4 separate regions of the Homo sapiens genome follow, and all the other regions are linked to region 1. Evidence: fine-mapped expression QTL. A gene starts in region 1. Each other region holds a variant in brackets. All regions are shown on one strand. Distances are from middle to middle.

The links. PIP is the estimated chance that this variant, and not a neighbour inherited with it, causes the effect.
Region 2: its variant is the best candidate, but not a certain one, in a credible set for the expression of OAF in whole blood (TOPMed, PIP 0.72).
Region 3: its variant is the best candidate, but not a certain one, in a credible set for the expression of OAF in atrial appendage (GTEx, PIP 0.69).
Region 4: its variant is the best candidate, but not a certain one, in a credible set for the expression of OAF in prefrontal cortex (CommonMind, PIP 0.78).

What each region holds. Positions count from the first base shown.
Region 1 is chr11:120,208,720-120,214,397 of GRCh38, forward strand. It overlaps OAF (out at first homolog), which reads left to right and starts at 2,313. Exons shown (of 4, transcript NM_178507.4): 1 at 2,313-2,791. The coding sequence starts at 2,561. RefSeq lists an enhancer at 1,066-1,607 and silencers at 1,941-2,200, 2,381-2,430, 2,521-2,630.
Region 2 is chr11:120,275,427-120,281,104 of GRCh38, forward strand. The region is part of intron 3 of POU2F3 (POU class 2 homeobox 3); the gene reads left to right. LOC105369531 (a long non-coding RNA gene) reads right to left here. Exons shown (of 4, transcript XR_007062924.1): 3 at 86-210. Among named protein-coding and RNA genes, the nearest start is that of POU2F3-AS1, 12 kb to the left of the region's middle. RefSeq lists a silencer at 759-948. The variant G/A (reference allele first, on the strand shown) is at 2,869.
Region 3 is chr11:120,188,139-120,193,816 of GRCh38, forward strand. LOC105369530 (a long non-coding RNA gene) reads left to right here. Exons shown (of 3, transcript XR_948101.2): 1 at 1-708; 2 at 791-858; 3 at 978-3,133. Among named protein-coding and RNA genes, the nearest start is that of OAF, 20 kb to the right of the region's middle. The variant A/G (reference allele first, on the strand shown) is at 2,349.
Region 4 is chr11:120,156,533-120,162,210 of GRCh38, forward strand. No RefSeq gene overlaps it. Among named protein-coding and RNA genes, the nearest start is that of TRIM29, 21 kb to the left of the region's middle. The variant T/G (reference allele first, on the strand shown) is at 2,987.

The DNA.
Region 1 (5,678 bases):
TAGAGAAGGAAGTTGACTATGGGGAAGAGGTGGGAAAGAGATGAGGTCTTCCATCCTTGTTTCCAAACCCAAAATGTGAACAGAGACAAACCTCAGGGACCTAAACAAGAAATCTGACATCCAGGGCTTCTTTGCCCACTTCTGGGCTGTTGTGGGAGGAGAAGGGGTAAGAGCCTGGGAAATGGCTGAGGGCAGAGCTGGTGGCGGATGGGGACAGGACCTGAAACAAGGGAAGTTAGGAAATGTGGGCGAGGCCCTTAATGACTGTGTGGGCTGACTCATGTGGGAGACCTAGCTTCAAGGCCGCATGGAGATCCAGCATCCTGTCAGGCGGGAGGCCAATTTCAAGACCCTGGGCATCTCTAGTCTAAACGGTTGCCAGCTAAGAGTGGGAGTCCTTAGGGGAGCAATCCTTGTGCTAATCCAATTATTCCCTAACAGCCTGCCTTATCTCCCGGATGTGAAGATGAACTCCTTAGGAGCCAGGTTCTCCAGGAAGGATGCTGCTTGTTTCAGATGCTCTATGTTTTTGTTTTGTTTTGTTTTGTTTTGTTTTGTAGAGACGGAGTCTTCCTCTGTCACCCAGGCTGGAGTGCAGTGGCGCAATTTTGGCTCGCTGCAACTTCTGCCTCCTGGGTTCAAGCAATTCTCCTACCCCAGCCTCCCGAGTAGCTGGGATTACAGGCGCACGCCGCCACACCCAGCTAATTTCTTTTGTATTTTAGTAGAGACGGGATTTCACCTTGTTGCCCAGGTTGGTCTCGAACTCCTGAGCTCAGGCAATCCGCCCGCCTCGGCCTCCCAAAGTGCTAGGATTACAGGCATGAGCCACCGCGTCTGGCCCAGACGCTCTATGCTTAAACATCTGCCAAATACCTGCTGTCAACCACTTATGTCGAGCATCATGTGGGCCTTGTCAAAAATGCTAATCCTCAGTTCTTTTCCCTAGAATCTGATTCCATGGGTTTAGGGATTCGGGAATCTATTTTCTAACAAGCATCCAGGTGATTCTTCAGGAAAGGCAAATTTGGAAAAGGCTGACTTGGTAGTCTCTTAAATTCCCTTCAGTCCTAAATCTAGGCAGCAGAGAGCGGGTAGCGGGAAGGGCCCCTGGATGATAGCAAGAGGCCGATTCTAGCCGGACCCTGCAGTTCACATGGCCCTGTGCTGGGGAAGCCCTAGAAGGGAAGGAGGCTGCAGAGAAGGGAGTTTTCACCCATCAGTAATCAAGGTCCCAACAGAAGTGAAAATGGAAGTCAGGGAACAATTGGTTTTGAGCATCTTCGTGGGGCTTTTTCCCTTGCCTGGGACTGGCAGGACAGTGTAGGTCTGAGCAGCTTCCACGATACACACGGGGACACTTAAGCCCAAAGAATTTTTAAAACGTGCCTAAATTCCACAACTAATCAGAGGAGGCAGCAATCCAGATCTCCTGGTCTTCACCCTTCTTATTGTTGGGGTGCACCGCAGGGCACGCATGTTTCCTTGTGGCTTGTGGGAAAGCCACTGTCGTGGAGCGCCAGCGTCCCGAGTCCCTGGAAATTCTCCCAAGTGACCTGGAATCCAACATTTCCCTGGATTTTCATAGTCTATAATAGAGAGAAAGAACCGGGTCTGCGGTGGTGGGCAGGACTGAGGAAAGGCCGTGAATGCGGGAAGCACGGGAGGCAGGACTGAAAAGGAAAGAGGCACAGGGGCTCACAAAACCTGAGGGCCGCGTCCCAGTGGGTGACCTGACCCATCAAGGTCTAACACCTGGCCGTGGCAAAGCTGGGCGAGAACCCCCGATCCACCCTCCCAGTGTGGGGCAGGGAAAAGGCAGAGTGCAAAGCGAGGTCTGATTTTGCAGAAGCTTTTTAGAAATTCGCTGTCAGAGAAACTGAAAGACCAAACAAAACCCCTAAAAATCCAAGCCCGATTATTTCATCCACGTGGCACAAAAGCAAGCCAAAAAAAAAAAAGCGGGGGGGGGGGGTGGCGGTGCAGGGCGGGGGAAGAGTCACCCGTCCTGCCCCTGCTGGAAGGAAGGGATTTGCCCCGGGAGAGCAAACTTCTGACTCCGCCTGGGTCGCTGACTCCGCGCGGCCGGGCGGGAGGGAGGTCGAGGAGGCCGCTCGCACAAAGCCGCGGAGCCGCTGCCCCCTCTCCCCGCCCCCTGCCCGGCCAACGCCGAAGTGCGGAGAGCAGCCGCGGGCCCTTTAAGGGCCGCGAGGTGCGCGGTCTCTTTAAGGCGGGTCCTGGTGGTTTCTGTTTTCTGAAGGAAGTGACGGGGGGTGGGATTGAATGAAAAGTGCAAAACACAGGCTCGCAGCGCTGGAGCCCGGGGCCGCGGAGCCGGGCCGGGGCAGCGCCGTCTCCGCCTCGGGGCCGCCGGGGGCGCCCTGCTGAGCGCTACCCACGTGCGTCCGCGCCACCTCGCGGGCGACCCCGCGGCCAAGGCCCCCGGCGGAGCGGCTCCCGGGCGCCCCGAACTAGCCCCCAACTTTGGGCGAAGTTTGCCTGCGCCTCTCCCCGCCCCCACGCGGCGCGCCGGGGCCGCGGACGGCAGCGGCCCCCGGGGATGCGCCTTCCCGGGGTACCCCTGGCGCGCCCTGCGCTGCTGCTGCTGCTGCCGCTGCTCGCGCCGCTGCTGGGAACGGGTGCGCCGGCCGAGCTGCGGGTCCGCGTGCGGCTGCCGGACGGCCAGGTGACCGAGGAGAGCCTGCAGGCGGACAGCGACGCGGACAGCATCAGCCTCGAGCTGCGCAAGCCCGACGGCACCCTCGTCTCCTTCACCGCCGACTTCAAGAAGGTGAGGCGCCCTCACTCGCCGGGGTGGCACCTTCAAGCCTGAGCCCCCCGGGATCCCAGGCGCTCTCTTGCCTGCAGACGGAAAGACGGGCCCAGGAGGGAGACGCAGCTGGCCCAAGGTCACGCCGGGCTCTTCTCTACACCTCTTTGCCCACTCCCCAGGGCCCACCCCTTCATTCTCTCCAAAGAACCCCTCTGCTTCCCTTTCTCACTCCCTCCTCCAGCGCTCCCAGAGCCCCCCAGGTGCTAACCCTCCTCCAGAACTCCTACTAACGACTGGACTCCCTTCTTGGAGTCATTCCCCTGTGCTCTAGTGGGAAAGTCCTAGGCGAAGTGTTCTCGCTGTGGGCTCTCACTGTGGGTTCTCCCTGTGTGATCTAGAGCAAGCAAGCCTCTTTCCTCCTATGGGCCTGGCTTCTCACCCCTGTACAGGGCACTGAGGGGTCTGCGAGGCCTCCCAGCCCTGACATTTTGGAGTCCCTCTGTCACCTCTCCCTCTGTTTCACTTTTCTGGGGAGAGCTGGTTGCCCCTGGTCCCTCTCAAGCCGGGAGAAGCCCTGTCTCCTCTTTGGTCTGGAAGGCTGGGGCGCTTGCAGCAGGAGGATCCTGGAGAGAGACCCCAGCTGAGGCCCCCTCCCTCTGGGAGAAGTGCTGCCCTTCACTCTGCCTGGCAGAGAAGCGAGCCAACCCCCCTATTTTGGCCCAGATTAGGGTTAGGGAGTTAGAGACCAGCCCGGTGGGTGGGTGGGTGGGTGGGTGTGGGTGTGTGGGTGTGTGTCCCAGATTACGGTTTGGGAGTTAGAGACCAGCCCGCTCTTGGTGTGTGTGTGTCTGTGTTGGAGGGAATAAGAAGGGCCTTGCACCCAGGGGGCTGGGGGATTATCAGGAAATGGGCCTGGATGGTGAGTGACTAACAGTGACCCAGCAGCAGGAAAGCTGGAGGAAAAGAGGGTGGGTAAGTCTTAGGTATTCAAAAGGAGCGTTCTGTCTCCTTCCCCCAGCTAAAGAGAGGCCCTGTGAGGCTCTGTCCCTGGGGGAGTGCAGGGGTGAAGCCGATTAGATAGCTGGGGGAGCCCGGGGCCCCGGGGACCCTTGCTGAAGCTGCCTGTCTTTCCTCCCTCGTAGAGACAGGGCGCTTTAGAGGAGAGGTGGCGGAGTTTGGGAAGTCAGTTAGGGACCCAGCCAGATTGCCATAGTTAGCAGGGGTGAGGGGTTAGGCTTGACCGCTAGAGGTGGGTGGGGTTGGGGGGTGAGGCTTGACCGCTGATTGCCCCAGGGCCACGGAGTTGGCACTGACATTGGACATAAGCAGGCAGATGGGGGGTGGGGTAGTGAGCGTTCACAAATGGGAAGACTTTGTAGCCCATCCTTACTCCGCAGGCCTAAGCTAGGCACCCTGCCTCCCCACCTAAACCCTAGGAGAATTTTATCAAGTGTGTTCTGTTCCTGAAAAATCTATGTTAGTGGCTGGATCCATCAGGAATCGGGGATCTAATCTTCTGTCCAAGCCCTTTGTCCTTGAAAGTTAGCCTTAGGCCAGGCTGTGAGGCTCCCAACCCCCTGCCCACTGGATGTCATCTTGTGGCTGCACTAGAATCCTGCAGAGAGACTTCCCTGGCTGTGGCCAGGACAGTGAAAGGCAATGGGTAGGGCTGAGCTTTTATAGCCTTTAGCTACATCTGGAAGGTTTTTATTGCTGTGATCTGAAGGGAGAGGCTAAGAAGTACCCAGGTAGCTGTGATGTGCTGGCAGTAGTGGCTGATGGCGGGGGTGGGGTGCTGGGGATTGGAGTGAGGGTATGCTGGTCATCTGACTGCCCAGTTAGAAAATGCATCTGGAGATTGTGAGCACCTCATTTGAATCTCTACAGTGGTTCAGACCTCCACCCAGGTTTCTAAAGTCTGATTTTCAGGTTAGCCTCTGACCCAGAAGCTACCATTTCATACCCACCTCTGGCATCTCCAATTTCATCAGCAAGGGAGGGAATTGGGAGTGGAAGACACCGAAAGGAAACCAGCTTTCCCAAGTCCCTTTAACTCCAGGTTTCTCCATTGGCCTAGGACGGGGTGGAGTTGGAGAGTGCAGTGTGGGGGAGAATAGCCTTACCCTCACCCAGGCCACTCACTCACTGCCTGCACTGGCCACAGCAGCTTCTATGTCCAGATCCTTCTAGGGTGGGTCACCTCTCAGTTCTCAAGGCCCCATGCCTCATAGTGTTTGTCAGATTTCCATAAGAAAGTTTGGTCTAGAAGGAATGATTTTTCCTATAAGAAAAAGACTTCGGCTCGGTGTGGTGGCTCACATCTGTAATCCCAGGATTTGGGGAGGCTGAGGCAGGCTTATCGCTTGAAACCAGGAATATGAAATCTTCAGGCCAAACGAGACCCCTGTCTCTACAAAAAATTTAAAAATTAGCGGAGCACGCTGGTGTGTGCCTTGTAGTCCCAGCTATTCAAGGAGGCTGAGGCAGGAAAACCACTTGAGCCCAGGAGCTGAGGCTGCACTGAGCTGCAATTGTACTACTGCACTCCAGCCTGGGAAGTCACGCTTTTTGTGTTTCTTGTACCAAACTCATTTGCAGTGATTTGGGAAAAGTCCTCATCTACTTGGGAAGAGCCTTGTTTGCCATTTGATCACGTTGGGGAGAACAGTCCAGACTGAATGAGACAGACTTGGTTTACCACTTATTAGCAGGTTCACCCTGGGCAAGCTACTTGATCTCTCCAGACCTTCATTTCTTCATCTATAAAATGGGGATAATAATAGCACATATCCCACAGTTAGTAGTGCCTATGACATCCTTACTCTGTATTAGATACTGTGTTAAGGGCTCAAGACATAGGAGCTGTTAGCTTTGCAATTGTGGCTCACACAGCATTTCAGCAAGG
Region 2 (5,678 bases), 67 kb after region 1:
TTCAGAAGAAAACTGGGAGGTAGAATTGGATTAAAGGGGCTTGGGGGTTCCAAAATGACAACTGCATACGTAGGTGGCCTCACACCTGCTCTGTTCCGGTAACTTCTGGAACCCTCATCTTCCAGGGCCATGGATTTCCACCAGGCAGATCAGGACAGTGTTTTATGTATGCTGTTGAGCATTGTGTTGCTTGAAGACCTCCCAAAAGTCCTGTGAGGCCAGAAGAGAGTCTGAAGCAAGTTGGCAGCTGTCCTTGTCCCACGTTTCCTGCCCCAAAAGCTGAGAATCAGTGGCCTGGGGTTTCCTCTCAGCCCCACACTTGGCAGCATTCTAAGCTCACCTGCACCAATGGCTCTCCCATGCCTGTTTCTGGACACCTGCGCCAGCTCGTCCTGAGGAGTTGCCCTGGTGTGCCCTAGTGTAGCATTTAGTTTTAAACCAACTGGGATTTTCCATCATTGTTTTGTTGAATGTGACCAACCAACTACCACGGTTCTCTAGCTGCTCCGAGTACAAATTGACTTGTAATTAATTGGCTCGTTGGGGCATCTTCTTTAAAATCAACAAGATTCAGGTACGGAAAGGTCTCCAAGGACCCAGAATGATGGAGAGGTTTCTTCAGGGAGGCCAGTGAGGGAAATGCAGGGGCAGCAGTGCCAGGCCCTGGAGTTGGCAACGGAGGGTCCGTGGTGATGGCAGAGTAAGTGCCCCCCCACAACCAGGAGCAGCCTCAGGACAGCAAGCACCAAAGCCACTGAGCCTGAGAGAGCAAGGGAGGGAATGAATAGGCCATGTTGGATTGTTTAGTTCCACAAACCTGCACTTAGCTGACTATTAGGAAGACACAGAAGAGTACATCATGGTCCCTGCCCACAGGAGCTCCCAGCCCAGTGGGGAAGATGTAGGGTCTGCCGCAGAGAGGGAGGTCAGTGGGGCTGGTTCAGAGGGCCTAAGAAAGCCATGCCAGGAGAATAGAGCCTCAGGGTAGTGGGTCCAATGGAGGGAGGCTCCGAGACCTCTTTGGGAGGATGAGAACTGAGGGCTGAAAGACTCTTGTTCCCCTGAGGATTGCTTGCTTCTGTTCCAGGATCCAGCCTCCAGTCCTGTACTTCCTGGTGGACACAGGATTTGGGGGTGGTGGGGCAGGGCAGGGCGGGGCAGGCTAAGAAAGAGAAGAGGATGAGGAGCCAACAAACCACATTTTGCTCAACCCTAAGCAGTACAGCTGGGTTTTCAGGGTCAGTCTATAATAACCTCTCTCTCCCCTCCAAAATGTCAAAGCAGAAATTTAAATGCAGGAGCCTGACAGATAGAGCTATGTTGGAGATACGGTTTTGATGCCTGGCCACAACAGGCTTTCTAAGACCTCACTGCAGAATTAAACACATCCACTAGGCACAGATAGAGCCGGCAGAAAACAGACCTGAAAGCACCCTCCTGGCCGGGTGCAGTGGCTCACACCTGAAATCCTAGCACTTTGGGAGGCCGAGGTGGGTGGATCACCTGAGGTCAGGAGTTCAAGACCAGCCTGGCCAACATGGTGAAACCCCACCTCTATAAAAAATACAAAATACAAAATTACAAAAATATGCATTTTTTACTAAAAAATACAAAAATACAAAATACAAAAATAAAAATACTAAAAATACAAAAATACAAAAAAATATTAAAAATACAAAATACAAAAAAATTAGCTACTAAAAATCCAAAAAAGTTTAGCCGGGCATGGTGGTGCACGCCTGTAATCCCAGCTACTTGGGAGGCTGAGGCAGGAAAATCACTTGAACCCAGGAGGCAGAGGTTACAGTGAGCCGAGATCGTGCCACTGCACTCCAGCCTGGGTGATAGAGCCAGACTCTGTCTCAAAAAATAAAAAATAAAAAAATTTTAAAAAGCACCCTCCTAGTCAACAGGCAGATCTGGACAGAAGGCCCATATGGGACCAAGCCACACCCTCCACCTCCTTCTAACCCTGATGTTCTCAGTTTTATCAGATCCAGTGTCTCTTGTAATGAGGCTCCTGTAAAACCCCTTTAATATCTTAGAGTGAAATTTATAGAAAACATAGGCCAGGTGCGGTGCCTCACGCCTGTAATCCCAGCACTTTGGGAGGCTGAGGCAGGTGGGTCACCTGAGGTCAGGAGTTCCAGACCAGCCTGGCCAACGTGGTAAAACCCCATCTCTACTAAAATTGCAAAAAAAAAAATTAGCCGGGCGCAGTGGCTTATGCCTGTAGACCCAGCTACTCAGGAGGGTGAGGCACAAGAATCACTTGAATCCGGGAGGCGGAGGTTGCAGTGAGCTGAGATCACACCACTGCACTCCAGCATGGGCAGCAGCGAGACTCCGTTACAAAAAAGAAAAAACAGATATACAAATAAAAATCAGTAATATTGTCTAATTTGAATAAAAAGGAAAAAGCAAAGTAATTTATAAAACAATGTGTATTTCAGCAGGTATATCCTTAGACATATTCCCCTAAAAGGTTTAATGAGACAGTAGGTCCCTCATGCCTCTATGAGTGTGACAGACACAAGTACAGGCTGATATTGGTATGCTATCCTGGCTGCTCAAAAGCCACAATCTTTCAAAGTGTTAAACAACTCTTTGTAAAGCTCCAGCCAAATCTAATACTTCCTCAATTAACACAGAAAATGGCATCCCTGGGTAAAATGCATATTAAGAGTGTGTAAAAGATACTTTGTGTTCACATAAAAAATAGAGTTGGGTTTTGGGCTTATATGATTATAGTCAGGCTGTTCACCGACACAGATGTCCGGTGGGGCACTTGGAAGTCATATAAAAAGTTGTATGGGATGCAAAGAAGTGTTTATTTGATACTGTCTTCTACAGCGCAAGATGTCTAGA[G/A]TACCTGCCCTCAGCCCAATAAATGCAAACCACGCCTCCTAATTATTAAGACAGCCAGAGAAACCACGCCACAGATTTCAGAAAACATCTCCCGGGGTAGCTGTGATCCCCAGTGAGAACGAGTGACCTTGACCCACCAAGGGGATAAGTCACTTCTCTTACCAGGAGACAGAGCCAGATGTGACTGGCTGGAGACTTTCCACATAGAAATACAACACCAGGAAAAGGCGCCCCCAGAAAGAATGCATACAGCCTCTGCCCTCAGAGAACTTACTTGCTGTTTATCCAGTGAGGGAGATGGGTCTGAAAAATTCCTAAAAATGTCAGAGCAAGGGGTGTGTAAACCAGCGCCACCCCCACAGGGAATGAGCTGCGCTGACTGAGTGATTAGGTGGATATGGAGCAGAATGTTCAGGCAGGAGATAATTGGCAAGATTAAATAACTCTCCATGGACACAAGGGCCTGTCAGGGGGTGGAGGGCAAGGGGAAGGATAGCATTAGAAGAAATACCTGATAAAATGACGGGTTGATGGGTGCAGCAAACCATCATGGCACGTGTATACCTATGTAACAAACCTGCACATTCTGCACATGTATCCCAGAACTTAAAGTATATATAAAAAAAGATTAAATAACTCCCTTCTCCAAAGTGATGTCCCCATTGTAGTCAAGATACTATAATAATTATAGCATTTCTTGAACTCTGACTGTATGCCGGGCATTGAGTATAAAAGGGTTTAGCAACCCTGTGAAGTAGTTGTCATCATTCCTATTCCATAGATGGGAAAACTGAGGCACTGAGAGGTTAGGGAATTTTCCCATCATAACACTGTTCACAGAGAAGTCTGTATTTAAAGACAGGCTTGCCAGACTCCCGACTCTGTGGTTCTCCCCCCACCACTGCCTGCTTGTCTCGGGAGGAGGCCGTGTGATATGGTGGTTGGGTCATATTGTCTGTATTGGTCAACTCCTCTGCGCCTCTGATTCCTCATGTGAAGATGAGAACAGTAAGAGTATCTATTTCCTAGGGATGGCGTAAGAATGAATAGAGTTAAGATCTATAAAGTACTTCGAATAATGTCTGGTATACAATAACGCACCAATAAACATTAGCTCTTATTATTTTCTGATGAATAAGAACCCATCATTTTCTCCACCACCCTTCTCCCTGTGTGGTTACTTAGCTGGGCTTGCACCAGGTTGGAGGGCTGCAGATGCTATTAGAGAGGTAATTTTTTTCTGGAATCCATCATCTCCCAATCTCAGCCCCACCGCCCTCTGCAAGCGTGGGCGGGGAAGCAGTTGGTAAACGTGTTTGTTTTTGGAGAGGTGGGAATTTGTCCTCTTTTGCCAGCCATGCTTGGTGCTTTGGCCTGAGGCTCAGGTGTCAACTGTTTCCTGTTTGTAGCCTGGGCAGCAGCCCCAGTACTGGGTGGACCAAGCCCTGTGGCAAGCCCCATAATGAACAGCACAGAGGAACAGGAACAGCTGTCTGAGTTCTCCAGAAGCCTGTGCCTAGTACTTGCTGGTCTACCAGACAGCCCCAAACACCACCAAAAAGCCCCTCTGCAGCATGGGGTTTGGGCCTAGCTGATTCCGGCTCCAGCACTGGCATGAGCTCTGCATGCATTCTGGATGGGTAGCGGAGACCGAATGCTCGTCTTGGCTCAGGTGTTGGGTGGAGAACAGTGAGAATGAAGGAGGGAGAAGAAGGTAGGGGTCCTTCACCTGATTGTGCAGGAGCCAAAAAGTGGCTTCTCTCTGGAGATTTCAGTGAGTTGCCTTTGGTGGATGCAGACACTGATGACACTAAAAGCAGGGCCAGGCCTTCCCTTTTTCAAGCAGGCGTCTCTTTGGAGCAAGGCTTTTGAAAGGGAAGCTGGATTTAGCCCCAAACAATAACAGGGGAAGTTAATACTATTTATTGAACCTTCAGTTTATAACAGGCAGTGGGTTGAGTGCTTTGCAAGCAGTATCTCATTTAAACCTATAGCCACCCAGAGCAGTAGATTTTATATTTCCATTTTAAAGATGAAGAAACTGAGGCTAGGAGAGGTCAAGCAACCTGCTTAGAGCCAGAATTCAAACCAAAGTTGAAGTGCTGTGCCAGGCACTTTACATAGGTGATATCTTACTTGAGATTACCTAATTAATCCTTACAACAGCCTGGTGAGGTAAGCATTATTCTTCCCATTATAAAGCTGGGGAAACTGTAGCTCAGAGAGGTTAAGTAACTTGCCCAAGGTGGAGCTCAGATGTAAGACAGGCCTGTCTGACTTTCTACCATACCAGGCTGCTTTTGAGAGAAAGAGGACAGACAGAGAGAGAGAGAGAAAAAGAGAGAGAGAGAGAGTGTGTTTGTGTGTGTGCACTCCTGCAAATGAGACATGACCTAATGTTACCCAGAGCCCCTCACTTGACATGTGTCCAGTACTTTTCCATGTTTCCAAAGCCCTGTCAGTCATACCAACACCCGCAGACCTCTTCTGGCTGAGGCTTGCCAGCAGAGATGGTAGAGATAGTATCTGCAGGCTCAGGGAGGGTTGCCAGGTAAAGGGTGGGGTGGAGAAGTGTTCCCACCCAAAGAGGGTTCCCCTGGCCCTTCGAGAAGCCGCCTCCCTGGGCCTGTGCGTGAGAAGGGTCCAGGGAAGAGGCAGTGTTTGCCTGTGTGTGCCTGCAGGGAGGGGGCGGGCCCTGGCTTTCTCTTTGCCCCCAAGTCAAAGAGGGCTCTGCCTGCAGCTCTTGTAACCAACCAGAGAGTCGTCTTCTCCCAGAATCATAGCCTTGGCTAAAAATAAACTTTTTCCAC
Region 3 (5,678 bases), 21 kb before region 1:
CCTCTGTGGTAGGAGTTTTCATCTCCTCTGATTAATGAAATTTCAGGAGAGGGATCGAAGGCAATTCTGCTCCTGCTTGGGAGTCCAGTTTCCAGTTCGATATGGGAGCTTCAGAAGACAGCCTCATCCTGTGCTTTGGGAGAGACAGGGGCTTTTGTGGGAGGTAGGTCAGAGAGACCTGGAGGCTGCTTCTTCAATTCAGCATGTCAAAGTGCCATCTTTGTGGGTATCATTTTCTGAGCCCTAATACCACAGATGCTGGCCCCCCAGAGCCCAGGCCACTGCTGCTCCACCCTTCCCTGTCCCCCAACCCCACGGGCTGTACCACAGATACACACACACCCCCACCACCACCAGCCCACCACTCAACATCCAAACACACAAAGACACTACACAAACCAGCCACCCTGCACGCACCTCACCACCACATTCACATACGCACTCACTTGTTCTCTCACACATCCTATGCCCACAGTTCTAGGACCACAGTCACAGACACCTCACAAACACCTCACTGCACACATGCTCTGAGCCATACACCCTGGCACAATGCACACCGACCCCACCTCACCCCACGCCCCTACACACAGGTCCAGACTTCCCCAAGCCAAGGAAGGGGCATGACACTCTTCTTAGGCCTCTCATCAGAGCAAAGTCTGTAAAGGTTTAGAAGAGTGTGAGGTGTTCCTGTCCAACAGGATTACCTTGGTGAGTTGAACCCACCCACCACCTCCTGCCCTGGGCATAAATTCTCCCATTCAACTATACCCCTTCCTCTGTCCCTCTCCAGGGAGAAAAGTGGCCTCTTCTCAGCAGGTGACCCTGGGGATGGGCCCCGGCTGCTCTTTGCCCTCTGAGGTAGGAGATATCCTTGCACATTTTCTCAGCAAACTCTTATTAACCAGCTACTCTGTGCCAGGGAAGTGCCGGGGAAGTGGGAGGCAGGGGCTGAAAGAGGTGCTTTCTCCACCCTTAAGGAACTTACAGCCCAGCAGCAAGGATGACCATGGACTGTGCTGCAAGCCACTCCACACCCTGCAAGGGAGCGGAATAAAGTGCTCTGGAGTCCAGTGGTGGGAGAGAACACTGCCAAGCTGAGAAGGCAGGCAGGCTTCCTGGAAGAGGTGACATGTGGGCAGGCTTTGACCAATGGGCAGCATTTACCTGTGAAGGCCATGGGGGTAGGGAGAATTCAGCCTCACTCCTACCCACAAAGCTCTCTAGCACCAGGAACCAGTTTCATGAAAGACAATGTCTCCACGGATGGGAGGGCAGGAAGTGGATGGTTTGAAGATGAAACTGTACCACCTCAGATCATCAGGAATTAGATTCTCATAAGGAGTGTGCAATTCGCAATAGGGTTCACATCCTTTGAGAATCTAACGTTGAGGAGCATGGGCGGTGGGGGAACCCCTGCTGTAGCACATCATCTTGTTTTATTGTATTCATAGCACTTATCTGAATTTATCTTGTTTATTTGAATATCTGTTTTCTTTTGTCTCCACCTCTACAACGTAAGCTAAAGCCTCCTGTGTCTTGTCCACCACACTTAGTGACTGTGTCCCCAGCACTTAAAACAGTGTCTGGTGCTCTTTAAAGGGAGGAAGAAAGGGAGACAGGGAGGGAAGGAGGAAGAGAGAGAGAGAGAGAGAGAGAAGGGAGGCAGGGGAAAAGCTCACCTGCCAAGGCACAGGACCTGAAGGCCAGTCTGGCAGGAAGAAGATGATGGCAGGCCTTGAATACAGGTTGAGGAAGGTGGACTCAACATTTGCCAGTGGGGAGCCATGAGGTTTATGAGCAGGGCAGTGATGCATACAGGCCAGTGGTCCCTGGGCCAGCCATTTATGCTGCAGAATCTCCTTGACTATGAAACATATGGGTCTCTGATTTAGCCAATTGACAGGTAAACTCTACCTAGTCACAGGATTCAACCATGACCTTTGGCAGTATAGGTACATACATAAACCTATTATACAGCATTTTAGCTTACATTGTAGGGGTGGGGCCGGCCAAACACAGATGTTCAGATAAACAAAATAAATTCACATATGCCTTCTCTCCTTAGCTTCACCCTCAGACCATCCCACAGAAATAGGTCCTAGATGGAAACAGCTTATGGTACAAAAGTCATGTCTTTGAGAAAACACATTTGCATGGAACAGCCATACCATTACCTTTCTCTAAAGCACACACGGAGGACAGTACGGCATGCAGAATGGAGAGGGAAGTGGCTAGATCGCTCATACCTTCCTAGGAGCCCCCTTCTACCCTTTCGAAGTGGACCAAGCCAGTGCCTAGTGTCTCACCCTTGCTAAAGAATAGCTCACTTGATTTTAGGGCCAAAGAAG[A/G]GGGTGGTAAGGCCAGGCAGGGGCTGAACGAGAACCCTCTCGTGAGCTACCTGCCCACTTTCCAAAACTGAGCAGGACAAATGCAACGGGGAGGTTTCATTTTAAATGTTCTCCAGTTGGAGAAGGGCTTTAATCTCAACAACGAAGACTCGCCAGCCCTTCAGCCCCTGGGCCTAGGGCTGAAAGCTCTGGGCCTTCACGGAGAGGTCCACTGTCTGCAGAGTCCTGGCCATAGCTGGGAAGGAGGGATCCTGGGCTCTGGTCTTGACTACAGGACATCTGGTATCTCTGTTGGAGCCAAGTCGAATCAGATGCTCAGGCTCCTAGTGGGAAGGGGCAGAGCAGCAGAGAGATCTGACCTGGAAAGAGCATGTGGTGGGTGCAGGCACAGGGCTCTGGATGCAGGACTGCAGCCCTAACTCTACCGCAGGACAGCTCTGCTACCTTAGGCAGCTCCGTTACGCTTTCTGCACCACAATTTCCTCATCTGCAAAATGGAGAAATCATCACTCTGCCTACTTCAGAAGAGCACTGTGGGGATCAAATGAGCTGAAAGGGAGATGAAAGGAGTTTGCGCTGCACACAGGGAGATGATGAGGCCATGCCCTCCTCACTGTGGCACAGAACACGGTAGCAGGAGGGACTAGAAAGGCCCTGTACTCAGAATTAATTAGGAGGCTCTTGTTTCTTGATAACTGCCCAGGGCCTGAATCCCAGCCCCACTTCTCACCTGTAGGTGACCATGAACCAGACATCTCAGCCCTCTGGGAGGCTTGTCTTTGAAGCGGGAGGAGGGGAGGAGCTGGCTCCAGTGATTGCTAAGGTCCTGTCGAGCTCTGCATTTGTTCCCTGGAGCCTCCCTAATTTCCAGACTCTAAAGTTCTGAATTCTCCCTGCTGTCCCATCTTACTCTCAACCAAGGGGAGACCAGGGAGGAGGAAACTGGGCTCCCCCTGAACACACTGGCTGTCTGGCAGCTGAGAATGGCCTCAAGCAGGGAGAGAGGATGGGGCTTCCCAAGTGCTAGGGAGAGCAAAGGACCCAACTTGTGCTTACAACTGCTCCCTCTATGAACAGGCAAGAGATGGAGGCTGGGGGGCGGGGCCCAACCAGGGGGGCTGATTTGAACCCTGACTCCTCCTACTGCGTGTTTATTATTCTATCTTCATTTTCATTCATTTATGTGCTTGTGCAGCAAACATTTGTAGGGCCACTATTCTGTGCCAGGCACTGTCCTGGGTGTCGGGAATACAGACATGAGGACGTTCACAGCCTCGTGGGAGACGACAAGAGATGTAAACAGATGGTTCGCACATAGAGTGAGAAGCAGGGGGACAGGAGCTCTCCTGAGTACTGCATCCTGACTACTGGGTGCCACAGAGCACAAAGGAGGGTCCGCACCCAGCCAAGGGGGCCTCTCTCTCCTTAAACATCACAGTCAGCTTGCTGAGATGATGGGAAATACAGGAATCGCTTGGTGCCCAACAGCTTAAGGGGTGGTAAAGAAAAAACATCCAAGAGAAAGGTTCCTGGGTGGGATAATTAATGTTTTGACGAGGAGGAAAATATTAGTGTGTGTTGCTCAGCATGCAAACACCTCAACTAACAAAACGGCTCGGAGAAAACAAGTGGAACGGTGGGGTTTTTCTCACAAAGATTTTTTTTTTTTTTTTGAAAAAAAAGAAGAGAAGAGAAAAAGATGGCAGTCACAAATAACCTCCCGCAGCTGAAAGACATTCCCCACCGGGTGAGGAAAGCAGGGCCCAGCTCAGTAGAGAATCTTGCTGCTGCTCCTTCCTGCAGATGGCCGACCTGGCACTTAGACCCAGAGCCCCAGCTCCTGACCCACGCTGCCATTTCAAGGCACTCCTCCCAGTTGCTGAGGCAAGGGGGAGTTCTGCACACACCAGTTGAGCATTTTAAGGAAAAAGAGATGGCCGGGCACGGTGGCTCATGCCTGTAATCCCAGCACTTTGGGAGGCCGAGACGAGAGGATCACGAGGTCAGGAGATCGAGACCATCCTGGCTAACACGGTGTAAACCTCGTCTCTACTAAAAATGCAAAAAAATTAGCCGGACGTGGTGGCGGGCGCCTATAGTCCCAGCTACTCCGGAGGCTGAGGCAGGAGAATGGTGTGAACCCGGGAGGTGGAGCTTGCAGTTAGCCGAGATCGCGCCACTGCATTCCAGCCTGGGCGACAGAGCAAGACTCTGTCTCAGAAAAAAAGAAAAAAAAGGAAAAAGAGATTTTCCTGATTTGCTAGGGTGCATTCGGTGGTGCCACGTCTAGACAGCTGCCTCCTACCCCAAAGAGTATCTTCTCAGGGAAGGTTACATTGTCTCCGGCTCCTGTACTCAGTGGAAGGGCCAGCTTCCTCTGAGGAGATAAAAGGGTTACTTTTGTTTCTACTTCTGTAAACTGTAAATATGTGCTCAGAATCTCCAGGTGACAGGACAAGCCCCAATGCTCCACTTTTGGAATTGATGCCAAAGCTTGACGGAGCTGCCAATTCATGCAAGAAAGTCCACCGGCACCAGACGGGGTGCTCTTGGCTTGTTTCCAGACCTGCTGCCCTTCCCCAGCTGTAGTTCCGGGGGCATTGCCCCTCAGGGGAGGACTGGTACCAGGCGCCCCTCTGCAAATGGACACACCAACGGTAGAACTGGCTTGGGCCCTCCAGAGACAAAGTTCAGGAAAGATCCTCCTCCCATGATCGGCTCCAGAGTGCTCCAGGGCTGGGGCCTGAGGGAGGAGCTACGAGGCCGGCTTGCGGCTGTGGCAGCATGCTGCTGACCTTGAACTCACCTTGACTACCACCAGAGCGGCCCCAGAGGCAGGCAGGGGCCAGTCCTCCGCTGTGTTGGGACCAGAGGGAGCACACAGAGCCAGAGAAGTCCAGAGTCCTCACCCTTCACTGGGACAGGATGGGACCTGGGTCTTGCCAACCAGCTTGGGCAAAGGTAAACCTTCTTTGTGTGCCCCAGGGAGGCTCAGAGCCAGCAGTCCCCACTGTATGGGGCCTGTGCGGGGAGAGGGTTCAGATGTGCCTCACGGCTGCTGCTGGCCGATCCCAAGGTCTTCTTCCACCAGAGGCACCTCTGCCTCCTTGGCCAGCAAAGGTTGCCACATGTGGCCACCCTTCCCTGCTTCCTGCCTCCCCCCATTTGCACCCCAGGTGTGAACACTCTTCTCATGGGTGTTTACATGCCTACTCGAACACCACAGGCAAGTCCTTGGCCAGCCAGCTCCTTTCCACCCTAGACCCCACAGGTCAGGGTCAGGGACTCCCCACCTTTTATACAGTGGGGAGAGAGTAGAACCTGTGCTCT
Region 4 (5,678 bases), 52 kb before region 1:
ACAAGGCAATCACAGCCTCCTGCAGGAACCATGGGCCACCCCATTCTCTTAGTGCTACAGCCTGGCCCCCACAGCCTCTGGTTGTTCTCTGCTCACAAGTACAACCCCCATGTGATTGTTCATTTCTGTTCCCAAGTGCAACACCCCTGCATGAGATGTGGTGTCCTCCTCCTGCTGGCTATGAGTATATGTAACTAACAAACTGTTGTCAGTTTCATCTGGTGTCAGGCATTGTGTCATCCCCATAACCCTAGGGTGGGAATTTCTCTGTCACCTACTTGGTTAATAGGAAGCAATTAAAATACTTTCCAAACGATATATTTGAGATTTCTTAGATTTTTATTTTTCTCTCATTTTTTAATATTTCATTGATTTCTGTTTTCATCTTTTTATTTCCTTCATGGGGTTTAATTGGATTTAATTTTCTCTTGTCTAGTTTCTTTTGGCAGTAGCTCAGGTGATTGATTTTAGAACATGTTTTTCTAATAAAAGCATATAATACTATATGTCTCTATCTAAGCATTGATTTAGCTACATCCAAGAAACTTTGTTTACATGCTTTTTTTCGTCTATAGTAGAATCTTTTTTCTACCAGGATAGGGATCACCTTTGGACTCACGCCTTAGAAGTCCCCAGAAGATGCCTTATGCATCTCCAGAGGCAAATTGGTGATTCTTTGCAATAACAACTTTTTGGGACTCTTAGATGCCAAGTAGTGACTGACAACACTTAAGTTCTTAACAGAGGTTCAGTCCTCAAGTGGGAAGTATGTGTGATTTACAACTGCAGGTATTGCAAAAAAAGATAATCTACTGACCAGCAATCGTATTGGCCTTTCTTCTCACATAGAAGGAACTCCTAGTCTGAAATCCTATGATTAAGGTGGTACTGGGTGTGGAGAATTATTTCCACTTTCTCTTAGTCCTACCTCAGATGGTGCTGCAGTGGCAATTTTGGCCAGTGAAGCATTTGCACAGGAGTATGGCCTGCAACCCAAAGAGTTCCACATGGCTGATAAGGCCTCAGGAAACTTACAATCATGGCAAAAGGTGAAGAGGAAGCGAGGCTTGTCTTACATGGTGGCAGCAGAGAGAGAGCCCTGTATGCTTTTTTATTCAGTTCAAAACATTTTCTAATTATCCTTTTGATTTGGTTTATTTCAAAATCTGCTGTCCAATTTCCAAATATTTGGGGGATTTTCTAGATATATTTTGCTTATTGATTTCTGCTTTTATTTCACTGGTGTCAGAGAACATATTTTCTATGATTTCACACTGTTTAAATCTTGAGACCTGTTCCAGAAATCTATCTTGGTAGATCGATCTTACTTGTACAATTGAAAAGAATGTATGTTCTGATTTGTTGGATACAGTACTCTATAAAATGTCAATTAGGTCAAGTTAATTGATGTTGTTGTTCAAATATTTTATGCCCTAACTGATATTCTTTCTACTTGTTTTGTCAGTTACTGAGAGAAGAGTGTTAAAACCTTCAACTATAATTGTGAACATATCTATTTCTCTTTTCAGATCAGTTTTTGCTTCATATAGTTTCAAGCTCTGTTATTAAATGCATAAACATTTCAGATTTTTGTCCTATTGATTATTTTACCTCTTTTTCATTAGGAAATATTTCTTTGTTCTTTGTAGTATTCAAAGTCTACTTTGAACATTATTTATATAGTCTCCTCAATATCTTTTCATTAGTGTTTGCATGGCATTTTTTTCTATCATTTTAATTTTAATCTATTTATACGTTTATTACAGTGAATTTCCTATAAATAACATTGTAGTTGAATCTTTTTTTAATCCAATATGACAATCTCTGCCATTTAATTGAAGTGTTTAGACCATTTACAATTAAAGTAATTATCACTATTGCTGGGTAAAAACCTATCTTCTTGCTATTTGTTATTAGCTCAGTTTGTTCTGTGCTCCTTTTGTCCCTCTTTTCTGCCCTCTCTGGATGTAAGTAAGGACTTTTTATGATTCCTTTTTATCTCCATTTGTGGTATATCAGCTGTTTCTCTTTATTTTATTTTTAGTGGTTGCTCTACACTTTACAATATACACCTTTAGCTTACCACATCTACCTTCAAATAATCTTTACCATTTCACATATTTTAAAACAGGTGTCAGTAAACTTTTTTCATAAAGTGTCAGACATTAAATATCTTAAACTTTGTGGGTCATACAGTCTCTGTTGCAACTACTTAACTCCACCATTGAAGCAAAAGCAGCCACAGCTTATCCATAAATGAATGATCTGTATTCCAATAAAATGTTATTTACAAACACTAAAATTTGAATTTCATATAATTTTCATGTCACAAAATATTATTTATCTTTTGGTTTTTTCTCAACCATTTAAAAATGTAAAAACCATTCTTAGGTCATGAGCTATAGAAAAACAGGTGGATGGCTGGATTTAACTTATGGGCCATAATTGACCAATCCCTGGTATAAAAGCTTTGTAACAATATACAGGCCAATTTATATTTCCCTCTCATCCTTTGTGATATTGTTGTCATAGAATTTTACTTCTACACCTGTTACAAAGCCAAAATACTATGCTGTTATTGTTGCTTCAAATATTCAATTAAATTTTTTAAACTTTTGAGTAAGGAAAAAATTTTTATATTTACCCTTGTATCTTTCAATTATTTTCAGTGTCCTTCACTCCTTTGGGTAGAGTCAGATTCTCATATGGTATTATTTTTCTTCTCTCTGAGACCTTCCTCTAAGTTTTTTTTTTGTAGTGCAGTTCTACTGGCAGTGAATTTTCTCAGTTTCTGTTTGTCTGAAAGCCCTTTATTTTATCTTCATTTATGAAAGGTATTTGACTTGCTATAGAATTCTAGGACACAGGGGTTGTTTTTCGTTTGTTATCCTTCATGCAGTACTTTAAAGATGTCACACCTTTATCTTCTGGCTGTCTTTTTTTCTGCTGGATTTTTGAACAAATTTATTTATTTACTTATTTTTTT[T/G]ATATTCTTGCTCTGTCGCCCAAGCCGGGGTGCAGTGGCATCTTTTTTTTTAATGAGAACTCTATTGCCATTCTTATCTTTGTGCTCTGTACATGATGTCTTTTTTTCCTCTGCCTGCTTTTGATATTTTTTTATCATTGATTTTCAGATATTTGATTATAATATACCTTGATGTCATTTTCTTCATTTTTATTCTACTTGGGTTCATTGAACTTTTTAGATCTGTGGGTTTATACTTTTTATTGGATTTGGGAACATTTGACTAATAAATTTTTGAAATAATTTTTTTCTATTTCTCCCGTCTCCCATCGTCCCCTTATAACTCCAATTACATTGCTCCACAGGTCATTGAAGTTCATTTTTTAACTCAGTATTTTTCCCTATGTGCTTTATTTTGTATAATTTATATTGCTCAATCTTCAAGTTCATTAATCCTTTTTTTCTTGCAGTGTCTGATTTTCCACTAATCCCATCCACTGTATTTTTTGTTTCAGATAGTTGCATTTCTAGAAGTTCCATTTCTAGAAGTTCCATTTGAGTCTTTTTAGTACTCATTTCTCTCTCATTAAGTTCATGCATTCCTCTACCTTCTCTAACCTATGGATCATATTTATAATAACTTTTTTAACATTCTTGTTTGCTAATTTTATTATATCTGTTTTTGATTGGTTGGTTTATCTCCTGAATATGGGTCATATTCCCTCATTATTTCTGTGTTAGAAATTTTAATTAAATGTTGGGCATTCTCAATTTTATATCACTGGGTGCTGGACTTTTTTGTGTTTTTTGAAGTAGTATTGGACTTTATTCTGGTGCATAAGTTAAGTTGGATCCTTGCAAACCTTATGATTAAGCTTTGTAATTAAAGTGGGCCCACTGCAGCCTTTAGACTAGAATTAATTTAACCCAGTACTAAGCCAATACCCTTCTGAACATTCTATCTAATGTCCCATGTATTATACGATCTCTCAACTTTGGCTGGTAGGAACACAAATTCTAAGTTCCATATAAGCTCCAGAAACTGTTCTGCCCACTCTTTTATTATTATTATTATGTCAATAGCTTTAGGGTTATGAGTAGTTTTTGGTTAAATGGACATTAGTGACTCAGAAGGCAGGAAGGTGGAAGGGGGGTGAGGGATGAAAAACTACCTGTTTGGGTACAATATATGCTATTTGGGTGACAGGTATACTAAAAGCCCAGACTTCACCACTATACAATTCTGCCCATCCTTTGGTGATTCTTCAGCTTTGGGTCATTTACTCTCACAGAGTATAAATCCAAGTAGCCTGTCAAAGACTCAAGGGACACCTATGAAGATCTCAGACCTCTGTCTGTTTCTGTGAACTTTCTCCTCTTTGTTACTCTGCCCTGCAAGTTCAAGCACCTTGGCCTCCCCGAACTGCAACTTTCTTCTCAATTCAGTGAGACTACCAGGTGTATTTTGCTTCTCTCCCCCTGCTCTGTGACCTGGAAACTGCCTCCAGGCAATAAGCCATTGTAGGGCTCTCTTCATTTGTTCCCCTTCTCTTAAGGATCACAGCCCTGCACTGCCTATTATTTAATGTCTGTAAAACATTTTTTTCACATATTTTGTCCAGTTTTCTAGTTGTTGAAAGTGGCAAGGTAAATCTAGTCGCTGTTACTCTATCATGCTGAAAGCAGAAATGCTTCTTGATGAGCAAAAATTTTTTTTATTTTAATGAAGTCTAATATGTTATTTTTTCTTTAATGATTATTGATTTCTGGGTTCCATTCAAGACATCTTTGCCAACCTTTGAGTCTTAAAAATATTATTTTATGCTTACTTTTAAAAAAGGTATATTTTAAGCTGCTATATTTAGATCTATGATCCAATTCTAATTAATTTTTTGATATATGGCATAAGGTTCAGGGGTCAAGTTTCATTTTCTTCAGAATAAAGATGTCCAATTGTTTAAGCACCATTTGTTGAAAGATTTTCTTTCCTCTATAGAATTGCTTTAGCACCTCTGTCCAAAATCAATTAACTATGTTAGTGCAAGCGTATTTCTAGAATTTCTATTGTGTTTCACTGATCCACTTGTCTATATATGCCAATACAACACTGTCTTGATTGCTGTAGTTTTCTAAGTCTTAAAGTAATCTAGCATAAATCCTTCAGCTTTGTTTTGCTTCTTTTTCAGGATAACTTGGGTCTTTTGTACTTCTATATATTTTCAAAATAAGCCTGTAAAATGCTATCAGTAAAGCCTTCTAGGATTATTATTGGAATTACATTAACTCTTTAGATTAATTTGGCAAAAATTACCTCTTCTCACTCATAAATACGGCTTATCCCTCCATTTATTTAGGTCTTCTCTAATTTCACTTAGCAATGTCTTGTAATTTACAGTACACAGTTCTTGCATACTTTTTGTTAAAGAATTTTTAACTATTTTGTTATTTATAATAGTATTGTAATTGGAATTTTTCCTTTTCCAATTATTTTTCCAATTGCTAATATGCAGAAATGCAATGCATTTGTATGTATTGACCTTGTATCCTCCAACCTTACTAAATTCACTTATTTGTCTTAATAAGGTTTTTAGCCACGTAAACTATCATGTCATTTGTGAATACATACTGTTTTACTTCATTTTCAGTATTTATGTCTTTATTTGTCTTGCCTTATTGCAGTGGCCATGATCTCCAGTACATTGTTTAATGGAAG